Homo sapiens: one gene and its partners. The protein of the gene in region 3 purifies or fractionates together with the protein of the main gene of each other region. This does not show direct contact. Each region holds a gene or a part of one and is shown on either strand. Other genes may lie near its edges. The genes, in order: PPP2R1B, ECSIT, PPP2R2B, CDCA4, PPME1, PABIR1 and IQGAP1.

Evidence for each region.
Region 1: the proteins of PPP2R2B (region 3) and PPP2R1B purify together in Homo sapiens (affinity purification with mass spectrometry; 4 studies listed by BioGRID and IntAct, with this or other methods). This does not show direct contact.
Region 2: the proteins of PPP2R2B (region 3) and ECSIT purify together in Homo sapiens (affinity purification with mass spectrometry; 3 studies listed by BioGRID and IntAct, with this or other methods). This does not show direct contact.
Region 4: the proteins of PPP2R2B (region 3) and CDCA4 purify together in Homo sapiens (affinity purification with mass spectrometry; 4 studies listed by BioGRID and IntAct, with this or other methods). This does not show direct contact.
Region 5: the proteins of PPP2R2B (region 3) and PPME1 purify together in Homo sapiens (affinity purification with mass spectrometry; 3 studies listed by BioGRID and IntAct, with this or other methods). This does not show direct contact.
Region 6: the proteins of PPP2R2B (region 3) and PABIR1 purify together in Homo sapiens (affinity purification with mass spectrometry; 4 studies listed by BioGRID and IntAct, with this or other methods). This does not show direct contact.
Region 7: the proteins of PPP2R2B (region 3) and IQGAP1 purify together in Homo sapiens (co-immunoprecipitation; 3 studies listed by BioGRID and IntAct, with this or other methods). This does not show direct contact.

Annotation. Positions count from the first base shown.
Region 1 is NC_000011.10:111,745,890-111,749,389, forward strand, and holds part of PPP2R1B (serine/threonine-protein phosphatase 2A 65 kDa regulatory subunit A beta isoform), read right to left. Parts: intron 2,126-3,500; coding exon 2,065-2,125; intron 1-2,064. UniProt on the Homo sapiens protein: The PR65 subunit of protein phosphatase 2A serves as a scaffolding molecule to coordinate the assembly of the catalytic subunit and a variable regulatory B subunit.
Region 2 is NC_000019.10:11,508,782-11,512,134, forward strand, and holds part of ECSIT (evolutionarily conserved signaling intermediate in Toll pathway, mitochondrial isoform 1 precursor), read right to left. Parts: intron 1-3,353.
Region 3 is NC_000005.10:146,648,258-146,651,757, forward strand, and holds part of PPP2R2B (serine/threonine-protein phosphatase 2A 55 kDa regulatory subunit B beta isoform), read right to left. Parts: intron 2,468-3,500; coding exon 2,290-2,467; intron 1-2,289. UniProt on the Homo sapiens protein: The B regulatory subunit might modulate substrate selectivity and catalytic activity, and might also direct the localization of the catalytic enzyme to a particular subcellular compartment.
Region 4 is NC_000014.9:105,014,584-105,018,083, forward strand, and holds part of CDCA4 (cell division cycle-associated protein 4), read right to left. Parts: intron 1-3,500. UniProt on the Homo sapiens protein: May participate in the regulation of cell proliferation through the E2F/RB pathway. May be involved in molecular regulation of hematopoietic stem cells and progenitor cell lineage commitment and differentiation.
Region 5 is NC_000011.10:74,230,289-74,233,788, reverse strand, and holds part of PPME1 (protein phosphatase methylesterase 1), read right to left. Parts: coding exon 3,390-3,500; intron 2,878-3,389; coding exon 2,787-2,877; intron 1-2,786. UniProt on the Homo sapiens protein: Demethylates proteins that have been reversibly carboxymethylated. Demethylates PPP2CB (in vitro) and PPP2CA. Binding to PPP2CA displaces the manganese ion and inactivates the enzyme.
Region 6 is NC_000009.12:68,783,029-68,786,066, reverse strand, and holds the end of PABIR1 (PPP2R1A-PPP2R2A-interacting phosphatase regulator 1), read right to left. Parts: 3' UTR 501-3,038; downstream 1-500. UniProt on the Homo sapiens protein: Acts as an inhibitor of serine/threonine-protein phosphatase 2A (PP2A) activity. Inhibits PP2A activity by blocking the substrate binding site on PPP2R2A and the active site of PPP2CA.
Region 7 is NC_000015.10:90,475,242-90,478,741, forward strand, and holds part of IQGAP1 (ras GTPase-activating-like protein IQGAP1), read left to right. Parts: intron 1-1,421; coding exon 1,422-1,577; intron 1,578-1,825; coding exon 1,826-1,989; intron 1,990-2,423; coding exon 2,424-2,648; intron 2,649-3,500. UniProt on the Homo sapiens protein: Plays a crucial role in regulating the dynamics and assembly of the actin cytoskeleton.

The DNA of each region.
Region 1 (3,500 bases), on a different chromosome or scaffold from region 3:
TGAAATGCAAAAGCAAAAAAGCTCCTGTGATTAAGTACAAAACAATTTCAGAGCTGTTATTTCATTGGTTCATGGAACTCTTGCAGTCCCCACTTCAGCATGCTGCTGCAGTGAAATAAACAAGGGTTTCTCCTGCTCCCAAACTGAAAGAGAAAATCCGAAAAGAGGAAGGAGTAATCAAGTTGCATAGAGAAGACAATCTTACAGAGAAAGGGTGCCAGGAATTTAATTCTTTGTGGAATATTAGAACTTTAAAAATTCCTCAAAATAAAACACCATCTTAATCTAAAATGCCAACTTTTAAAGAAAGCATAGAATGACTTGAGGCCAACCCAAATGCCCATCAATGACAGACTGGATAAAGAAAATGTGGCACATATACACCACGGAATACTATGCGGCCATAAAAAAGGAATGAGTTCATGTCCTTTGCAGGGACATGGATGAAGCTAGAAGCCATCATTCTCAGCAAATTAACGCGGGAACAGAAAACCAAACAGTACATGTTCTCACTAATAAGTGGGAGTTGAACAATCAGAACACATGAATACAGGGAAGGGAACATCACACACTGAGGCCTATCAGGGGGTGAGGGGCGAGGGGAGGGAGAGCATTAGAACAAATACCTAATGCATGTGGGGCTTAAAACCTAGACGACAGGTTGATAGATGCGGCAAACCACCATGGCACATGTATATCTATGTAACATAACAAACTTGCATGTTCTATGCATGTATCCTAGAACTTAAAGTAAAATAAAATTTAAAAAAGCACAGAATGATTTGCTAGGATGCACCATTCCCAGTAACGTCAAATATTTATCAGATATAACATAAACATTTTTTTTAAAAGTGGTATTTCTTTCCTATGATTTGCCAAATTTTAATTTTATTTAAAAAGAAATAAATAGGCCACAATAAGATAACTTTAGAGAAGAAAAAGAGAAAGAAGTCTACAATCCAGTTTGAAAACACTGGAAATACCCACATATATAAGCCCTTATACATTTTCACATATTTTTTCACATCCTTCCTCTTCACACTCTTAACCATATGATCCTCCATATGATGCAAACATGCCTTTAACAAAACCACCCACACGTATAAGCAGACACAAATATCCTCATTCCTCCCAAATTTCCAGGCATAAGCACCCATAGATGAACAAAGAGATACACTAAATACATATATCAAGTATATAAAAGATACTGTGGAACTGACTCAGGTTATCTATTATATCCACCAAAACATGGAAACAAAGCTCAAGGACAATGTCACATGACCCCATAGGGGCACTCACACTCATCGAAACAGGTCTAAGACAACACTGAAGCTGTCAAGTCTGGACCTGGGATCTGGCAGAGACGGTACATCTGTCACCCACTGCTGCCTGGCACACAAGGGGATACACACATATACCTCTACCTGAAGCCTCACCAGGAAGTCACTTGCTCATTCCTGCTGTCCTATCTGACCTGCCCTGAGCTCACCCTCTCCTAGCACTGTAGCAGCAGCAGTGAGAGTACAAGCAGTAAGCCTTCCTTTCACCCAAACCAGAAATCCAGGCCCTCTCTCTCCCTATGGCAAAGCTAGTGTTTCCCACACCTAAGAATCCTCTACTGTCTCACTGTAGATCTCCTCTTCTATGTCACCTCAAAAAGCCAAGTAGCCATTTCTCCCACCCAGGCCTTTCATCTGATTCCAATCTCCATACAACCTAGTGTATAGCTGCTGAAGACACCAATTACAGGATGGTCAAAAAGAGGATCTTCAGATAAGGGAGGAGTAAGTAGATATATAAAAGAGATGGTCTGAAGATAATGTAATAGATTGAGTAAGAAAATAATGCAAATAAATTGTTTAATGGAGAAAATAAAATCGAAGATACAAAAAATTGGTAGAAACGTCAAATTTATATTCAGAAGATTAAACTTTAATTAGAGCCTTTCTTCATTCCTACAATATTAAGGCAAAATATCTGGTCAGACTGAGATTCCTTTCTAAAAGGAAATGTATGAAAATCATGGATATATGGGCTTTCAATAATCTGTTTTTATCTACTCACCATGGTCCACGAGCCAAGCCATACATAAAGAATTCAGCTTTTCATCAAAGAATTCCACACCCTACAGATACAGAAGATTCCATTAACATACATTGCCAAAATTCAGAAATAAAGATGGTCTATTTACATTACACCAAGGTTACCTGAAGGCTAAAAAAACTTGTTTCCAAATAAACAAATAAGAGATAGAAACACCACAGGAATTACAAACAAACCATAAATCTATTTATTGGACGGAAATCATAAACAAAAAAAAAGCATACGTGAGCTGGCATAGGCCCTGCTAGGTAAAAGAGAACAGGGTGGCCAGAAGTCAGCCACAACACTGCAAAAGAGCAGGAAGAATGCACTGTGTATGGTCTGCCAAGCAAATCTGGATTACCTGTAAAAATGAATTACCCAGGAAAACACCTGTCAGTAATATTACTAATTCTCAATCGTCTTCCCTTTTTGGTTACTATTATGACAAATCCTTAAGGATAAAGCAACTGACCTCAAGACATAGAGATATCCCCAGTTAAAGAGAGTATTTTCGAGACAACAGGAGAAAGCCCTGGAGGGAGAATAAAGCAGGCCCAGGACTACAGGGCATATGGCCCAGGCATGGCTTGCTCTCCCAGCCCTGTTCCTCCCGACTGTCAACAGGTGGCCACTTCAGTGCAGGCTGGGGATGGGCTCCGGGAGCAGATTTACACAGTCCTCTAACCCCGGGGCTTCCACACCACATGGAGAATGCTGTGACACACTTTCCTAGTGCCTCCCTTCTGGGGTCTACACATTTACAGTCTTGCTTCTTTGAACTCTAAGAAGTTCCTGACTGGTGATTCTATATTTTAAAAAAAGAGAGGTAATATAATGTGTCAGTGCTTTGAAAATAGTGATTGAATAAGACAAAATAGCTTTTTTTTTTTGAGATGGAGTCTCACTCTATTGCCCAGGCTGGAGTACAGTGGCACAATCTCAGCTCACTGCAACCTCCACCTCCCGGGTTCAAGTGATTCTCCTGCCTCAGCCTCTCAAGTAGCTGGGATTACAGATATGCAGCACATGCCCAGCTAATTTTGTATTTTTAGTAGAGACAGGGTTTCACCATGTTGGCCAGGCTGGTCTCTTAACTCCTGACTCAGATGATCCGTCCGCCTCAGCCTCCCAAAGTGCTGGGATTACAGGCATGAGCCACCGCACCTGGCCCAAAATTGCTTTGTACTAAAAGATCATAATGAACAAATTTTGGCATACACTTAGATTACGTCAGCCAAGATTTCTTTTTCATTTCAGGTTGAGAATTTTCCTTCAGTTTTAATTAACTTTTATTTTCCAGTTTGTTGTTGTTGTTGTTGTTGTTGTCGAGACGGAATCTCTCTCTGTCGCCCAGGCTGGAGTACAGTGGTGCAATGTCAGCTCACTACAACCTCCGCCTCCTGGGTTCAAGCAAT
Region 2 (3,353 bases), on a different chromosome or scaffold from region 3:
GGCCTCAGGTGATCCGCCTGCCTTGGCCTCCCAAAGCACTAGGATTATGGGCATGAACCTAACTTTGGGTGGTTGTAAAATATGTAGCACAGTCCCTGGCAAATAATAAGTGCTCAGTGCTTGTGAATTAAAAAAAGAAAAATAACTTCACATATACAGAATATCCCAGGAAGGAGACACTAGAAGCAAATGATAGCTTTCACCTCTGTGGAGGACAGGGTGGGAAGGAATACCTTTTTTATCTTTTAAAATTTTATACCTTGAACATAATTCAAAAACACTAGACAATTTTTTTTTTTTTTTTTTGGGACAGAGTTTCGCTCTTGTTGCCTAGGCTGGAGTGCAATGGGGCTTGATCTCAGCTCACCGCAACCTCCACCTCCTGGGTTCAAGTGATTCTGCTGCCTCAGCCTCCCGAGTAGCTGGGATTACAGGCATGCACCACCACGTCTGGCTAATGTCTGTATTTTTAGTAGAGACAGGGTTTCTCCATGTTGGTCAGGCTGGTCTCAAACTCCCAACCTCAGGTGATCCACCTGCCTCAGCCTCCCAAAGCATTGGGATTACAGGCATAAGCCACTGCGCCCCGCTGACAAAGTTTTTTTTTTTTTAACAAAATGCACTTGCTTTTGAAACAAAACAGTGGACAGCTATTAGAACATATATCATTCATCCTTTCAAGTTAAAAAAAATTGAGATGAGCAGGCCGGGCGCAGTGGCTCATGCCTGTAATCCCAGCACTTTGGGAGGCCGAGGGTGGTGGATCACTTGAGGCCAGGAGTTCAAGACCAGCCTGGCCAACATGGTGAAACCCCGTCTCTACTAGAAATACAAAAATTAGCCAGGCGTGGTGGCACACGCCTGTAGTCCCTGCTACATGGGAGGCTGAGGCACAAGAATTGCTTGAACCTGGGAGGAGGAGGTTGTAGTGAGCCGAGATTGTGCCACTGCACTCCAGCATGGGCGACAGAGCAAGGCTCTGTCTCAAAAAAACAACAAAAAAATTTGAGATGGATCAGTGACTTCTAGTTGTATTAAATGAAATTTGTAAAAGGCAAGGTACATGTATATAATGCCCTGCTACTAAAGAAACTTTTTTTTTTTTGAGATGGAGTTTCGCTCTTGTTGCCCAGGCTGGAGTGCAATGGCGCGATCTCGGCTCACTGCAACCTCCACCTCCTGGGTTCAAGTGATTCTCCTGCCTCACCCTCGCAAGTAGCTAGGATTACAGGCATGCACCACCATGCCTGGATAATTCTTTTTGTATTTTTAGTAGAGACGAGGTTTCTCCATGTTGGTCAGGCTGGTCTCGAACTCCCAACCTCTGGTGATCTGCCTGCCTCGGCCTTCCAAAGTGCTGGGATTACAGGCGTAAGCCACCATGCCTGGCTAAAGAACTTCTTTTTTTTAAACAGACAGGATCTTGCTCTGTCACCCAGTCTGGTGTGCAGTGGTATGATCACGGCTCACTACAGACTTGACTTCCTGAGTTCAAGCCACCCTCCTGCCTCAGCCTCCTGAGTAGCTGGGGCTACAGGTGTGCACCACCACTCCCAGCTAATTTTCGTATTTTTTTGGTAGAGATGGGGTCTTGCCATGTTGCCCAGGCTGGTCTCGAACTCCTGGGCTCAAGCAATCCATCTGCCTCAGCCTCCCAAAGTGCTGGGATTACAGGCATGAGCCACTGTGCCTGGCTGTATTTTACTCCATAAGACGGGGGAGAAGGATATTTAAATACAAAGGATACAGATGCCAAAAAAAAAAAGAGAGAGAGAGAGAGAGATCTGCTTGCAAATGTATAGAACCTCTCTGGAAGGAGACATGGAAATAGTCACCTCTGGGGAGGGAGACGGGCGGCGTCAGGGGCAGCGCACGGGGCCTGGGTAGAAGCAGAGGACTCGTCACTGTGTGCTTTTACATGCTGTTTGGCTTTTTAGTGCATTGCTTTGCAAAATGAAGAAATGAACTAAAAACAACCCTCCCCCCCACATTCTGCTGCTGGTCTCAAGCCATCTCTCACCTGGACCCACGACCCTGGTCCCCTAGCCCCTCTCCCCATCCAACAGCATCCACACGGCTGCCAGGAGACACGTTTCCAATTGCAGATTCTTCCAGAAACATGATTCCAACCCGATTCCTTCTTCTTAAATCTCTGCCCCCCCACCCCCGGCATAGCTCTCCCCACCAACCAAGAGGTTTGAGATCAAGCTCTTTAATCAGGTGCCCCCACTCACTGCACCGCATTTCCTGGTACACACTGCTCCCTCTGCCCAGCGTCCTCTGCTCTCCTTACCTCCCCCAGGAAGCCCCACCTGCCCACTCGGCTCCCACAGCACCCCGGGCTTCTCCATCTCAGAACCACTGGCTCTTAAGGAAACTGTTATCTGTCCAGGACCACATGACAAGTGCTGTGAGGGGCTCTCTTTGGATCCCTTGTGTGATCTGGCATGAGTGGGGGCTCCCAGGACACTGAGTTGAGGGTGTTACTCCACTCAGTCATTCAACAAACCACTGCCAAGTGTCAGCTTTGCACCAAATCCTGTGCTCAGCCTTGGGAGACAGGAGGGAGACTGAGTCATGGTGAATGAGGAACCAAGCCAAGCACGGTGAAGGGGTGGTGCCTTGGCCAGGGAGGTCAGGAAGGGCATCCTGATTAGGAACAGTGGAGCTGAGACCGGAATAACATGAAGTCCATGGGGAACAGTGTTCCTGGCAGAAGGAACAGAGAACGCAAAGCCCTGTGGTGAGAATTGGCACAGAAAATAAGGAAGATGCCTAGAATGTAGCAAGTGTTGGGAGAAGGATGGGAGGGTGCTATGGTCTGAATGTTTATGGCCCCCTGAAATTCATATGTTGCAATCTATCTACAATGCAATAGGATTAAGAGGTCAGGCCTTTGAGAGGAGAGGCACTTAGATCATAAGGGCTCTGCCTTCATGAATGAGATTAGTCCCCTTATAAAAAAGGTCTTGGCCGGGCACAGTGGCTCACGCGTGTAATCCCAGCACTTTGGGAGGCCGAGGTGGGCAGATCATGAGGTCAGGAGATCAAGACCAGCCTGGCCAACATGGTAAAACCCCGTTTCTACTAAAAATACAAAAATTAGCTGGGCCTGGTGGTGCATGCCTGTAATCCCAGCTACTTGGGAGGCTGAGGCAGGAGAATCGCTTGAACCCGGGAGTCAGAGTTGCAGTGAGCTGAGATGGCGCCACAGCACTCCAGCCTGGCGACAGAGCGAGACTCCATCTCAAAAAAAAAACAAACAAACAAAGGTCTGAGGGGGCCAGGCATGGTGGCTCATGCTTGCAATCCCAGTACTTTGGGAGGCTAAGGTGGGTGGATCGCTTGAGCTC
Region 3 (3,500 bases):
GGAGCTGCAAATGAAAGAGGCCCGAGTTTCTGAATTACTGATTGGAGGAGGCTGCCTGCTGATGGGGATCATCAATATTAGACTTCATACGAAAATAATCTTTTATTTGTTTGAGCCATTATGGGGTCTATTCTATAAACGAACCTTCAGAGCTTTACTATAACTCTTAAAATTAAATTTCCAGGTTAGATTTTATGAACTGTCTACTGGATAGCGCTACTTTGATGACCTACTATTATTTCGAACTTGACAGGTTCAATAATTTTCTGTATGTCAGAGTGTTCCACGTACTGGAATACAGCAATAGTTCATACAAGGCCCTTGCTCTTGTAGAATTTACATCCTAACATGAGGAAACCAAAAATACATAAGTAAAAAAATTTCAAATCATGGTAAGTACCATGACAATAACAGGGATAGTGTTATTGGTAGCTACTTAAGAGTTAATGGGAAAGAGTACCTCTGGGGCCTGAAGTGACATGTAACTAGCCATGTGAATGCTGTGGGCAAAATATTCTAGAAAGAGGGAACAGCAAATGCAAAGAATGGAAGAATAAGGTTTACTTAGGAACAGAAAAGTGATTAGTTGGCTGAAATGAAGTGAATTAGGGAAGCGTGACAAGACTGGATAACAAAGATGGAGACAGGTTCCAGATCACGCAGAATCTTATAGGCCAAGTTAAATAACTTGGATTTTATTCTGAGTTTAGTGGGAAGCTACTGGAATGTTTTTTATCAGGGAAGGAATGATATTTGAATTACATGTTGAAGGGTTCGTACTGTATAAAAGAGCAAGAATGAATGGAGACCAGATGAGATTATTGCAGTCACAGTGGTGAGAGACAACAGTGGCTTATGCTAGTGTAGGTAGGTAGATAGGGATATATGCGTTGATTTGACATATATTTTAGAGGCAGGGCTCATGGATAGATGGAGTTAGAGTAGGGGAGGCTGGTAAGTGGAAGAGAAAACTCCATATTGATACCTAGGTCAATTGTTCAGTTACCTGAGTTGTTCAGTGCCATTCCTCATAAATCTCATGCCTTAGGTTTGTGAGAAATGGAGCACATGATAGGTATTCAATAAATGACCAATTTTTACTATGAAATAGAGGGTCAACATAGTGGGGGTGAAAATACTGGCCCAGCTATTCAGCATTTTTTTTTTTTACCTTTCTATATATTTTTTATTTTTATTATTTTTTTGAGATGGAGTCTGGCTCTGTCACCCAGACTGGAGTGCAGTGGTACGATCTCGGCTTACTGCAACCTCTGCCTCCTCAGTTCAAGCGATTCTCCTGCCTCAGCCTCCCAAGTAACTGGGACTACAGGCGCCCGCCACCATGCCTGGCTAATTTCTTTTTTGTATTTTTAGTAAAGTTGGGGCCTTGCCACGTTGGCTAAGCTGGTCTTAAACCTCTGACCTGAAGCAATCCACCTACCTAGGCCTCCCAAAGTGCTGGGATTATAAGCATAAGCCACTGCGGCCAGCCGACTTTTCTATATTTTAATTAAACAGGAGATAATGATACTTACATTATGGGGTTGTTTTATCAAATATGTCCTTGGGGGTAGAAATTATTAATATAAAGAGGCATGATGGGGGCTTGAGAATTGTTAGCAAAGTTCTGTTTCTGGATGTCAATGCTGGTTATAGGTGAGTTCAACCTCTGAAATTTCATCAAACTGTATAATTATAATATGTATACTGTACATTTTATCAAACTGTACAATTATAATATGTATACTATACATTTCATCAAACTGTACAATTATAATATGTACTTTTCTATATGCATAATATACTTCAATGAGGTAAAAAATGTAATACTATAAAGTTCCCATTGCAAGTGCTTGGAACTCAATAAATGTCAGTCACTATTATTTTCACTATTATGAGACAATGGAAACCAGTATGTCTGTGGTCCATGCTGTCCATACAGATTTATGAATCCTTTAACAGAGAAAGAACCTGAACTCTAGGGTCTTATCCTATTGTTGATAAAATCACCTCTAATTTTAATTCGTGACATATAAATGCCTCTGTATGAAGGAATTGATTCAGAGTCCCAATCCAGAGCTAGCCCTGGCCTCCCACTTGTAATAACAATATTTCCCTAACTTTATTGTTATGATTAAAGAGTCTCATAGGTGCCAGTGTATTTTAAAAGGGGCAAGTTCTCCGCAAATGCTAGGTGTTGCATTTCTATTCCATATTTTCTCCCAGCCCACTCGCACCTGAATACTCTTAATTCAGGCCAGTTGATTCTTGATCACAAAGAAAGGATACTAAAACTTTGATTGGTTATTTCAAAGTTCCATAGGTTAATCCTCAGGTCATCAGCGGACATGTAGGTTTCATAGTCGCTGTTGACAGATATGGAGTTGATGTGATATGTGTGTGCGTTGGCAAATACTCTTCGTGGGGTGGCCTCCACCATCAGGTCCATGGGTCTCAGGACAGGCACCTGGGATGCAAGAGAAACAAATCACTTCAGAACCAAAGATCTTCCATAGGAAAAGAGTGTGCATGCTAATATCATTTATTATCACACACAAAATAATAGCCACATTGAAGAAACTCCAAGTTAGAGAAAGAAGAGGCTAATAACGAATCACACACTGTTCTTGTTCCATTCTGTTCCTCCTCTTTCAAAAGATATCACCATCACTTAGCCCTGGTGGGAAATTTCATTCTTTATAAATTCTAAACATTTTTCTAAGCCCCTCCAGGTAGCCTCATCTCAGGGGAACTTGGCTTCCATTGTGGAGTCATTACCTTCCAGAGACATTGTTCTATTTTTTTTTTAAACATGAAATCTATTTAAAAAAGGGAGTTGTGGGAAAATTTTAGAAATGTCTAGTTCAACTTTAATCTAAATTTATCTTTTATGTCTTTTCATCTCATGGCTTTGGAAGCTATACCCCTTCCTGGCTTTGTCCTTAATCCTTAAGGGCATTTTGGGAAACTTTAGCATCACCCAAGACTCTAATCGTCCAAATTCAGCCACTAATATATAGGGAACCCAATGACATCTGACTGAGAAAATCTTGGTTTATATTTGTCTTAGAGTGCGAACCAGGTAGTGTCCACTTTTACATGCAAAACTGTCCCAGTTTGAACATTAATGATATGGTCACCTTACTGATACATAAATACTTCTCAGTAAGTATTTGTTGAATGAGTAAGAATACATGATTAAATGATTTCTTTCTGGTGGATCAGAGAATCGGCAACTAAATAGTTTCCCACACATGACCGTCTTTCTGGCAAATGTGAACAAAGACCTATCACTCTTCCTCCTTTGAGTTCTGGGTGAACTGGCTACAAAGAAAGAGAATAAGAACACTAATGCCTGAGAGGGAACAAACTAAAAAAACACCCAAGACAGACAAAACCCCACAACACAGGTGTGGTCACTTAATAGAAACAAGATAATAAAATAACCAAAGCTATTTTCTTTTCAAGCAAATCATTTCTTGCAACTGAGCCCCGACTGA
Region 4 (3,500 bases), on a different chromosome or scaffold from region 3:
TTTCTATTACTTTTGGTAAATATTCGAGTTCTTTGTGTCAGCCACAAATTTAACTTTTCAGAGCTTTTCCATCCCAATCCATTGTTTAAATCACTGGCTTAAAATTGCTAAGTATATCGAGAATTAACATAAGGCTATGTCAAACTACAAAGGACACCCTGCGTTGGGGAAAAGATTAAGTCCCACGGGTTCCTCTGTGGGAAGTCAATATACCTTTTAGGTTTTTAGTTTCTCTTTCAACCTATCTCAATCCCAAGCCTGCATAGCAATGGATTAATTTAGGACCCAAACCAAATCCTCTTGAACAGCATGCATTAAGCCCAAGTTTATAGACAGAAGAACCCCTGGCTGCCTCCCCTGACTCTGGAAACCCAGCAGCACAACCCCCATAATGTGGGGCCTACAGGAGGTCAGCACGACTGAGCAGGGCAATCAGGGCAACTCACAGAAGGAACAAGAATACCAATGGGACAGGCCAAGAAGACCCACAACCACACTGGGAACCAGTTCAAGAAGCTGTCCCAAGCTCCTAGGACCCTCTGGGTCCCACTTTCCTTTCCTCTGAGTCCTTAGAAATGCCAGGTCCTGAGTCCAAACCCAACGACAGACCCTCCCGCCCTTTTCTGAAAGCCAGATATGGATACTAGAAGCCTCCCACTGGGGATCTTAAGAGGATGAATTCAGTGCTTGGCCTGGTGCTGTCAGCGGTCCTAAGGGCAGCACTAGCAATACGTGACCGTCAGAAATCACCCTAATAACATCTGCTCTGAGCGAGGGAATATACCAACAAACAATGGCGGAACCACATACAGAAACAGAACTCTCAGCCATTATCTGCCGCCATCAGTCGGAAACCAGCCCTTTACCTTCAGTAACGGGCCAGGAAGCCAGGTTGCCCTAGTCAGACCTGCAGGAAGCCTGGCTGCTTTCTCTAGGAACAATCCAGGAAGCTAAACAATCATTTCCATAGCAAGCAGCCCAAAATGGCCAGGACATGATTAGTAACCGACAACCTCTCCAGTTTTTGTCCCTGCTTCCAATTTAGGACCAACCAGAGAAAGCCAAACATGTTCTAGGCCATCTCACAGGAGCCCCACTTCTTTGTTGTTGTTGTTGTGTCGCCCAGGCTGGAGTGCAGTGGCGCAATCTCAGCTCACCGCAACCTCCGCCTCCCAGGTTCAAGGGATTCTCCTGCCTCAGCCTCCCGAGTAGCTGGGATTACAAGGGTGTACCACCAGGCCTGGCTAATTTTTATATTTTCAGTAGAGACTTACCATGTTGGTCAGGCTGGTCTCAAAACTCCTGACCTCGGGTGATCCACTCACCTTGGCCTCCCAAAGTGCTGGGACTACAGGCGTCAGCCACCGTGCCAGGCCAGGAGCCCCACTTCTAACTGGCCACCCCAGTCCCCCAAGTCAGCAGCCTCCATCAGCCATCCCTGAGCTTCCCTGGATTCCACTGTAAAGCTCTCCTGTTCCCTCACCTGCCTATGAGTTTCTGCCAATCACGAGAGAGGAGGGCCGCACCCTTGCTAGGGGAAGCTCTGGATAAACAGCCTCTGCCTGTTCTCACCTGGTTGCTTATTTCCACAGCTCACCATAGACAATCTGGAAGAGCATCAAAAACCATAAAACGAATTTTCTCCCAGGATCCCATCCACTCAGAAAAACACAGTCACCACCTGGGTTCCTCCTTTCCAGTCGTTTCTCCCAGCACTTTCCTCTCTGCACAAGGGAGGGAAGTTTCACACTACTGACAATTTTCCCAATCACAAATGATACCAGTTTCTAACTTTAGGTGTTTTGGTATTTCTAGCATTTGGCTTCCTTAGCCTCGGCTCTTTACTTACTAGGGTGATGTGCAGGTACATTTTTAAGAGGCTTGATAAACATTATTAAACTGCATCCTAAGAAGGTGGAACGCTCCACCAACTTTCTCCCGCACTATTTCTGCACACTTGCTGGTAAAGCTTCCTCTTGTTTTGCCAAGTCTCTAAGCCCCACAGCTAAGCGTTCCTTCCCTCCTCCACTGAGCTCCACGTCTGTGTTCCTACCCTGTTCCACGGCTGCTCTCCTGCCAGGACCAGACACCCTGGCCTCCCTGTGTAGGTCCTTTTCTGGCCATGCCACCCTTCAGCTCTGGGTCAGCCCAACAATGTGGCATAAATGGGATCCCACAGCAAGCACCCTTCTGAGGTTGGCTTTTCTCCTTCAGCATAATTCTCTTGAGATCCTTGCAAACTCTTGTGTGTCAACAGTTCCCAACAGAGTAGGATCTGGAGGCACAGACGGAGCAGAGTGTCACCACACCCCAGCTGAAGGGAACTTTTTCCTTGTTTCCAGTTTGGAGTTATTACACATAAAGCTGCTATGGACATTCTAGAACATGTTTTTGCATGAACATTGGTTTTTCATTTCTCTTGGATAAATGCCAAAGAAATAATCGTTTTATAAAATTTAGGAGTGTTAAATGCACAGGCAATGAGATCTATCACACCGAAAAGAAATTCAGAGAACAGGGGGAACCTTTTTTCTGTCTATTCAAGGACAGGACCAGCAGGTGTGAGCCTCCAGAGAGGCTCCTGGGGAGGTGGGGGGCGGTCCTTGGCCTAGTTTCATCACTCTCAGTTGTAAGCATTCTTTTTTTTTTTAGATGGAGTCTCACTGTCGCCCAGGCTGGAGTGCAGTGGTGCAATCTCGGCTCACTGCAACCTCCACCTCCTAGGTTCAAGCGATTCTCCTGCCTCATCTTCCCTCAACTTCCCGAGTAGCTGGGATTATAGGCGTGCACCACCACGCCCAGCTAGTTTTTTGTATTTTTAATAGAGCCGGGGTTTCGCCATGTTGGCCAGGCTGGTCTCGAACTCCTGACATCAAGTGATTTGCCCACCTCGGCCTCCCAAAGTGCTAGGATTACAGGAGTGAGCCATCACACCCAGCCACAAGCATTCTTTTAGGACTTAAACAGCCCGGGCACAGTGGCTCATGCCTGTAATCCCAGCACTTTGGGAGGCTGAGGCAGGCGGATCACCAGGTCAGGAGATTGAGACCATCCTGGCCAACACGATGAAACCCCATCTCTACTAAAAATACAAAAGATTAGTCAGGTGTGGTGGCACGTGCCTGTAGTCCCAGCTACTCGGGAGGCTGAGGCAGGAGAATTGCTTGAACCTGGAAGGCGGAGGTTGCAGTGAGCAGAGATTGCACCACTGCACTACAGCCTGAACAACAGAGCGAGACTCCGTCTCAAAAAAAAAACACACACACACAAAAAAAACACTTAAAACAAGTTGAATGTATACGATCTGGTGTATTCTGACAAAGGAATGCAACTCAGCAACATACCTCAATGATTTATGCAACACGGATAAATTTCAAAACATTATGCTGAATAAAAGCAGCAAGACACACACAAAAATATGTACCGTAGGATTCTATTGATCTGAACCTTCAGGACAGGCAAAGCTAATCTAAGTTGTGAAAACACAGAAGGGTAGCCAC
Region 5 (3,500 bases), on a different chromosome or scaffold from region 3:
GTGCAGTGGCATGATCATAGCTCACTATAACCTTGAACTTCTGGGCTCAAATGATCCTCCCACCTCAGCCTCCTGAGTAGCTGGGACTATAGGCACATGCTACCACACCCAGCTAATTAAAAAAATATATATATTTTTTGTAGAGACAGGGTCTCGCTATGTTGCCCAGGCTGGTCTCAAACTCCTGGCCTCAAGTAATATTCCTATCTCAGCCTCCCAAAGCACTGGGATTACAGGTGTGAACCACCACACCTGGCCTAAAGCCCAGGTTCTTAATGACTATACCCCTGCTGCCTCTCATTAGGAAACCTATGAGAGCAAAAGCAGTAAATCATTGGCCTTATATTTCAACATAAAAAAAAATCTAGAATAGCCAAAATGGCCATCAGTCATAAACTTGATTCAGATATCCAGCAGAATAAAAAACAAAATTACCAAATACCTCATAGTATAATAATTTTCAGGTTCAGAAAGATCAATGACTCTCATGAAACCCAGAACATCTTAACATTTAACAAACAGAACCCTTATTCTATCCTGTATCTGGCAAAAGAAACAAGACTACTTTAAGAGAAGGCCTACCATGATACCCAGGCTGCATTAGGTATATCCCCTGGCTTCCTTCATTGTGTTATGTTTATGTGTTTCCTTGTTTGCATCCCCAGTTTTTTGATGATAGGAACTGAGCCTGATTCATCCCCCAGTTCTTAGATCAGGTACTGACACATCTTAGGCACTAGAAAAAAAAATTTACTGAATAAATTTTTAGAGTTCGGAAAAAGGGCCAGGCGTAGTGGCTCATACCCATTTATCCCATGACTCTGAGAGGCCGAGGCGGGCAGGCAGACTGCTTGAGCTCAGGAGTTCAAGACCAGTCGAGCCAACATGATAAAACCCTGTCTCTACAAAAAAAAAAAAAAAAAAAAAATCAAATAACAAAAATTAGCTGGGCATCGTGGTGCACAGCTGTAGTCCCAGCTACTTGGGTGGCTGAGGCAGGAGGATCGCTTGAGCCCAGAAGGTCAAGGCTGCGGTGAGAGCTGTAATCATGCCACTGGACTCCACAGCCTGGGCAACAGAGTGACACCCTGTCTCAAAAAAAAAAAAAAAAAAAGTTTGGATAAAAGTTGGATGGGCTTTAGACAACTGAGCCAAGTCTAGAATAACTTTCTCACTTGTTGTTACTGCGGAAGCAGGCAGGGCACCTGAGATACAAGCCAAGCTGGCAGCAGCTACATTCTTGATGCTATCTGCCCAAGATAGATCTTTGATATTTCTGTGAGAACAGGAATCCTGCATCACAGTAGTGAACAGGAAGTGGTAGAAACTTCACCAACACAAACATCATTCTGACAAGCCATATTCTTGCATAAGACCATTTGTCCTAGGAAAACGCCTAGGATATATTTACCAAGTCCTAAATTTCCACTTGATATCTGATTCAGTTAACAGATATATTCTGCCTGCTAGGGCAGTATGCCATATGCTATATGAAAGTAGAAAAGAAATACAGAATAGCTTCTTCCCTTATGATGCAGGAAGGGCATTAAGACAGACATTAATGAAAATTAACAATATGAGCCATATCCCTCAAGGGAGTATTGGAAAACTTAAGGGTATACAGTGCAATATAATAGAGACTTAAAGGTCTCTTGTAATTTTGCTGAAAGCGTCATCTGGGTGGTTTGGAGAACTTAAGAGAAAATGTTCTGAAGAAGAGACTGGAGATGGAGTTAGAAGAATAGGAAGGAAGATAGGATGATGAAGACATTTATCCAAAGACTGATCTCCTTGTGGGAAGGGACAGTGTTTTATTCATCTCTGAATCTTCACTCATTAGCACAAAATAAGTGTTTAATAAATACTTTATCAAATGATTAACTGAATTAATGAATAAATTCATTCCTTTGCTTAAATGGAATTCTGTCACTGATTTTTATAAAAACTATTTACCCATTGAGTTTATTTACCCAAAATCCAAATAAATTTGAGGGAATGGAACCTATAGCCATCTTCCATTTCTCCACCATTTTATCTGAAACACAGAAAGTAAATCTAAAACCATGAAGCATCAGAGGTGGATGATGCCTTAGAAACCACCTAGTCTAACCTCTTACCTCAGAGGCAGAAACAGCTAGACAGCAGATGATCAATAATTACTAAGATTCCAGGAGGTACTATAGTGTATTGGGAAAACAATGGGTTTCAGACAACTGAGCCAAATCTAAAATATTTTTAAATGTTCAAAAAATTCTGCTGTTTATATAATGTTTCCTCATATGCTATTACAATAAGGCGTGGCAACTGAAATTCTATTCCTTGAACTTGGTGCTTGACCTAAAAAAGAAGAAAAGCTACAATCTAACATTTAGAATAAAGGCAACAGTGGCTGGGCACTGTGGCTCACGCCACAACCCCAACACTTTGGGAGGCTAAAGTGGGAGGATTACTTGAGGCCAGGAATTTGATTACTTGATTACTTGAGGCCAGGCTAAAGCAGGAGGATTACTTGAAGCCAGCCTGGGCAACATAGCAAGACCTCGTTTCTACAAAAAATTTAAAAATTAGCCAGGCTTGGTGGTGTGTACCTGTAGTCTTAGCAACTTGGGAGGCTGAGGTGGGAGGATTGCTTGAACCTAGGAGTTCAAGGTTGCAGTGAGCTAGGATCATGCCACTGCACTCCAGCCTGGGTGACAGAGTGAGGCCTTGTCTCCTAAATAAATAAATAAGCAAGCAAACAAACAAACAAATTAATTAAATAAAGGCGACAAAGATTTGTTGGTTACCTCCATTCAATAGCATTCTCCAGAGACTTGAAGGTTTTAGGACGACCCCGTAAGAAATTCTGCATGCTATTAAGTGCATCCATAGCTGTACCTGGATGTTAAACAAAAACTGTAACCACATATTTAACTTATTCTGAGCATTTACACTTACTGAGTCAACTACTATATATCTGCTCTTGATGACAGCAGAATTTAGTGATGCTCGCAGAGAAATAAAGATGGCCCTCAATAATTTTTGCCTCTGGGGTATTCACTTCTTTATGTCATGCCCTCACACTGAAGAGGATGACTTGTATTCACAAGCAGCAGTGTGACTTCTGAAGCTGGGTCAGAAAAGACATGGCAGCTTCTTTTTATATGATTAAATACAATTATGGGACATACATAGGATTGAAATATTATGCAGCCATAAAAAGATGTTAATGAAGAGTTTTTGATGACATGGAAAAATGGTTATCTTGTATAAACTTAAAAAAGATATAAAGACAGAGGGACATATTTCAAGATGAATGAAATCAACAATAAACTAAGACAAGGTAATAATCTACCAAGGATGTCTCTTATAAGTGAAATCCTGATTTGGTCAGTGCTAAGAAAACTCACCTTCTACAACATCAATCATGCACAGACCCAAGAGGCTTGGTACCAGGTTGGATGATGCTGTGTGGACTGCAATAGCACCACCCATGCTATGTCCAATCAGCATAATTGGAG
Region 6 (3,038 bases), on a different chromosome or scaffold from region 3:
GTCATTAGAGAAGGATCAGTATTTCTGATTTCTAGAAGGGGGCTATCACCTATAAAAAGAAGAATAAGGCTTGTTTTGCATTTGCCAAAGGTGGACTTGAATTGAATGGTGGAAGTTAGAGGGAAATGTCTGTTCACTATAAGAAAGGCTAACATCAGAAACAATCGCTTCATAAAAGGATAGCCTGCTTTGAAGGATATTGTACTGTTAACTGAGTGTGAAAGCAGGAGTTTCATCCATCAAGGATGCTAATTGCCCAGCATCTTTGTAAGCACATTGTGTACGAACCCATTCAATCCTCACCACAGCCACCCTGCTCCACTGTCTATATTCCTAACCACCACAATTCGCTGCCTACCTCCCAGCTCTGGAATCCTGGGCAAGTAACTCAACCTGTGTCTCCATTTCCTCATTTATAAAATGAGGATAATGATAGCACTTGCCTCAGATGATAGTGATAGATTAAATGCATTGATATATTTGCTTAGCACTTAGAACAGTCCCTGACACATAGCAAGTATTTTATTACTTTTTATACAAAGGTCATTTCAACTTTTAAGAAAATTTTTTTACTTGGATGGCAAGTTACAGAAGCCACAAAGAACTCTGTCTTGGCTACAGTGAGCAATCTGACACAATTTTTTACCAAGTAAGTGGCACTCAAGGCTTGCCTTCAGCCCTGATTCTCTAACAGCCATGAAAAATGTGGGCAAAACTGCTGGAGTGAGAGACCTACATTGAGACCAGATTCTCTATACTTTGTCATGGCTGATAAGGTAAAGCCCTGAAAAAAGTGGTCTAGTCCATAAGCCTCTGCTCCCTTCTCTTATCCTCAATGCCTCAGCCAATCATTCAAACTACACTTTCAGCAGAACCCTTAACTACTTCACACACTGGGCTTTACCTAGTACCCACTTAACCAATTCCCAAACCTAGTCAATCCAACCCACTTCCTTGTGCCTGCCATCCAACTGCAACCTGGCATCCATCATAGCCTAATAAGCCTTCTACTTGTCCTTAACTTACTCCTTTAGATTCTCAGAGGCAACATTAAACCTTTACTGCACTCAAGCTTCCAAATGATCTCCTGTCCCTATCCTCATGTATCTTAGATTCCTCAATAATTGGAAAATAGGCACAATCAGAAACAAATTCTACTTTTCATATACCTACCTCCATACTCCTAAACCCCTGCAACAACAAATCAATTCAACATTTATGGATATCTTTGCCTAGCCTTTTCACTCTCCCTCCTGTTTCAGAAGAAAAATAAGTTTCCAGACCTCCTTTCCAAGGCCAACTCTTTCTTCTGTTCTCTGGTGCTACTCAAGAAATGATCATCATCTTCTTGGTTCAATTGTCTGGCAACCATTCCCCTGACTCCCACCTCTGTTAGATCTTCAAAATTGTTCTACTAATCTATAAACACACCCTGAAAAAAAATGTTCTCAGACTCACTTTCCTCATTTAAGTCTTGATTCCTTCCCCAATTTTATTGCCAAATAAACTGGTCTCTTGCTACAGGTATGTAACTGGTTGAACTAATAAATGTGAATCACTGGAAGGCAATCTGATACAAGTTATTCTTGATTACAATCAATCTTTTAAGTATGCTTAAGGGTCCTAACATCCAGCAGCCTTGGAGTTAATGATCTTTAATGATTTCTCCCATTTATACTGTGTTTTTAACAAGCATAATAAAGGAAAATATACCAGAGGTTTATTAAGTATGACAAACTGTACTTTAAATAAATGTTGCTATTGACTTTAGGACTTCTTGCACAAAGTTTATAGATTAGCAATACTAATACCTTAAAAATGCTTTTTGAAGGATAATTCTTACACGAGCTAAGTAAGCCCTTACAGTCTACAGAATAATGATGGACGTTATGAACAATACTATGATAACGTAAATTGTCCACATGCCCTTAGAACCTTATCTGATTTAAAAACTTCCCATCTATATAGAAGAATAAGCTTACAGAAATAATGTTTCCATACCTTCGGGGAAAAGGATCTAAAATAGGAGAGAACATGATGTATTTAAGGAAAAGAAAGGCAAGCCAGTGAGGGCGAAGCACAGAAAACGAGGGGGGAGGAGGGAAGGACCAAATTCCTCAGGGCCTCCTAGCCCAGAATTAATACATTTTGGCATACTCATGAGAACAGGAAGCAAATGAAAAGCGTTCAGCTGGGAGATGGAAGGATCAGGTCCGCAATTTTAAAAGAATGACTCTAGTTGCTGTATGGAGAATGAATGGATAGCCGACCAGAGTGAGTGTGAGGAGCACAAGTGGGAGTTAGGAAGTTGCTTCAGAAGCCTAAGAGGGAAATGCTGGTAGCCTGGATCAGAGTGGCAATAGAGGTAGAAATAAGGAGATAGATTCTAGCTGATAAAAATCAGTAAGACTTGAGGAATGATTAGATATGGGGAAAAGTAAAGAAGAGAGGTGTCAATGACATGTTGGTTTCCTGCATTTATATACATATATACATGGAAATGCCAGTAACACATCTTGTACAATAGATATCAAGTTGTTAACAGAAGTTATCTGTGGAAAGGGAAGATGAATTTTACATAATTAAAAGCAGACTTTTAAAACCACACAGATATGTACAATGTTTAAATATTTTACAATCAGCAGGTATACATTGCCTTCATACTTAAACTCACGTGCAATTTGCCTCCCTGAAAAGGATAGGAATTATCCCAAAGAACAGACACAAGAAAAGTACATGACATATTTAAAGAATATCAAGTGGTCTAATGTTTGCAGAATAAGAAGGAAAGATGTATACTGGAACAGAGATGAGGAGAGGATTGAAGCTATTTCAGAATATGGCCAGATCATAAAGGTCCTTCTATCTGAGGCTAAAGAAATCATTCCTTAAAGAGTAGGAAATGGGGAAGCAAGTGAAGTTTTCAAGCAAGAGGGCGAAAAATATCAAGTTTAAATTTCAGAAAGATTACTCAAGAGGCAGTATAAAGACTGAACCAAAAGGAGACAGAAGACAGGCTGGGAGATCACTCAGGCAAG
Region 7 (3,500 bases), on a different chromosome or scaffold from region 3:
ACCCGCCTCAGCCTCCCAAAGTGCTGGGATTACAGGCGTGAGCCACGACACCCGGCTTTTTTGCATTTTTAGTAGAGACGGGGGTTTCACCATGTTGGCCAGGCTGGTCTGGAACTCCTGGCCTCAAGTGATTGATCCACTCACCTTGGCTTCCCAAAGTGCTGGGATTACAAACATGAGCCACCATGCCCGGCCATCATAAGCTTTTAAAAAAGTTATGTAAGACAGGTCAGGCATGATGGCTCACACCTATAATCCCAGCACTTTGGGAGGCCGAGAAGGGCGGATCACTTGAAGCCAGGAGTTTGAGACCAGCCAGGCCAACATGGTGAAACCCTGTCTCTACTAAAAATTAAAAAAAATTAGCTGGACATGGTAGTACATGCCTGTAATTTCAGCTACTCAGGAGGCTGAGGTGGAAGAATCGCTTGAACCTGGGAGGCAGAGGTTGCAGTGAGCCAAGATTGCATGACTGCACTCCGGACTGGGTGACAGAGTGAAACTCTATCTCCAAAAAAAAAAAAAAAAAAAAAATTATTTAAGACATAAAACAACTTAATTGACAAAATTTTGATAGAGAAAAGAAGATAAATGTCTTCCCCTAATTTCACCTACCCCAGTCATTTTGTATCTTACATTCTTACTTCATATTAAAGGATAAGACTCTTTCCCTATGATAAGTAGTCATAATTTTTTTTTAATTTTATTTTTTGAAACAGAGTTTCCCTCTGTACCCCAGGCTGGAGTGCAGTGGCATGATCATGACTCACTGCAACCTCGACCTCCTAGGCTCAAGTGATTCTCCCACTTCAGCCTCTCAAGTAGCTAGGACGACAGGTGCATGCCACCACGTCTGGCAAATTATATTTTTATAAGAGATAGGGTATCTTTGTATTGCCCAGGCTGGTCTCAAAACTCCTGGGCTCAGGTGATCCTCCTGCCTCAGCCTCCCAAAGTGCTGGGATTACAGGTGTGAGCCGCTGCACCCAGCCATAAATATTATTTTTAACAGTAGCATATTAGATTTTTAGAAGATATACTATGATTTACCTCTTTTTCCCCTAGTATTTGACATTTAGGTTGTTTTCCAAGCGTTTATTATAAATAACATTGCAATTAATGTTTCAATATATATGTAGCTTTTATTGTATTTAAGACTTATTTTTATAATAGACTGCTGGAAGTTGGTTTGCCAATTCAGTGGACATTCTTATGGCTCAGATTCTTTGTTGGAACATAGGAATGGATTTGACTGGTGTACTGAAAACAGGATAAAGTGTAGTGGTTTTTAAATATTCAGTGGGAATCTGCCAGTGCAGTACACCTTCATGTGAGTTTGCACATGCTGCAAAACCTTTCCTCAATGCCCAGAGGTTCATCTTTGAAAGCTTTCTGATCTATTTATTGGTTTTTGTTTATAGGATGTGGTTTCCCACAGTAAAAAACTTACCAAAAAAAATAAGGAACAGTTGTCTGATATGATGATGATAAATAAACAGAAGGGAGGTCTCAAGGCTTTGAGCAAGGAGAAGAGAGAGAAGTTGGAAGCTTACCAGCACCTGTTTTATTTATTGCAAGTAAGTGGCTCCTGGAATCAGTGTTATAAAAATTTAGTGAATTTATTTTTCCACAAGAAAGCCTTACCATCGATCTCTCTGGAAGTATTTTTGACTTCCACTGAGGGGTGAGTGAGGGGCACTGTAACATGTTAATTTATTAATCTTTTTTCTCATATGTATTGTAGTCCTTCAATTTTAAATAATTGAATATATCTTGCCAGCCTTTATATTACCTACAAATGACTTATCCCTTGGTTTTATTTCAGACCAATCCCACCTATCTGGCCAAGCTCATTTTTCAGATGCCCCAGAACAAGTCCACCAAGTTCATGGACTCTGTAATCTTCACACTCTACAACTACGCGTCCAACCAGCGAGAGGAGTACCTGCTCCTGCGGCTCTTTAAGACAGCACTCCAAGAGGAAATCAAGTATGAACAGATTTCCTCAGGGCACAGGCCCCTTCCCACTATCAGAGGGGCTCCCAGTTTGAGATTCATGCCTTCCTGATCTTTTCTTGATCTCAATTAATTTATGAAAAATACTTACTCTAAAGAAGCATCTAATTTTTAAATAACTGATATAAAATCTTGCTGCTTCTAGGGAAGGGATAAATTAACTTTAGGAACATTCTGTATTAAGGTATAATTTCAAAAAGTAATCTGAACAGAAAGAATTCACATTTTTATCTAGTAGCGGACCCAATCATGACCACGATTGAGCGTGCAGCTGCAGGAACATTCTGTGAGTGCTGGGGAATGTTTCGAGAGAAACTGTTTCAGGGAGATAGGATCTTTAAGCAGGAAGGATCTTTTAAGTTGATGGGTTTTGTGACAAGTTTAAATTTTTATCTGATGTTTTATAGGTCGAAGGTAGATCAGATTCAAGAGATTGTGACAGGAAATCCTACGGTTATTAAAATGGTTGTAAGTTTCAACCGTGGTGCCCGTGGCCAGAATGCCCTGAGACAGATCTTGGCCCCAGTCGTGAAGGAAATTATGGATGACAAATCTCTCAACATCAAAACTGACCCTGTGGATATTTACAAATCTTGGGTTAATCAGATGGAGTCTCAGACAGGAGAGGCAAGGTATGTTAACCATAATGACACTTTTCTTTCATGTTGTTATAGTCTTTCCCTCTTTTTTCCCCTCTCTTTATTTATAAACTAATATTAGTTCAAATAGTTTTTCTTTTCTTTTCTTTTTTTAGACAGAGTTTCACTCTTGTCGTCCAGGCTGGAGTACAGTGGCATAATCTCAGCTCACTGCAGCCTCCACCTCCCAGGTCTAAGCAATTCTCATGCCCCAGCCTCCCGAGTAGCTGGGATTACAGTTGCACGCTACCACACCTGTCTGATTTTTGTATTTTTAGTAAGACTGGGTTTCACCATGTTGGCCAGACTGGTCTCGAACTCCTGACCTCAGGCAATCCATCTGCCTCGGCCTCCCAAAGTGCTGTGATTACAGCTGTGAGCCACCACACCCAGCCTCAAATAGTTTTTCTTTAGAAAACTGTGCTTTCTAAGTTGTTGACCTAGTAATAAATTCACTTATTTAGCAAATATTTATTGAGTATTAACTATGTGCCAGGCATTGTGTTAGAGATGTGTACAGTAATGCAATAATGAGTGAAACAGACATGCTTCCTGCCCTCTCTTCATAGTTCATTGGGTGGAAGAGACACCAACCAGGTACATAAAAATAAAAGCATAATTAAACATTGAAGAAAGTTTTATGAAGTTTTATGTACGGTTCTTTAATGGAGACTTTATAAGAGGGAGCTAACATAAGGTGGTTAGGGAAAGCCTATCCCGGAAGATAAAATTTCATTTAGCTGAGGCCCTAAAGCTAAGATGAACCCAGCCTTACTAAGAGCTAGGTGCAGAGTGTTTATGTCTGAACACTCTAAGCTGGAGGGTGTAGGACTTAAATGGACCCTG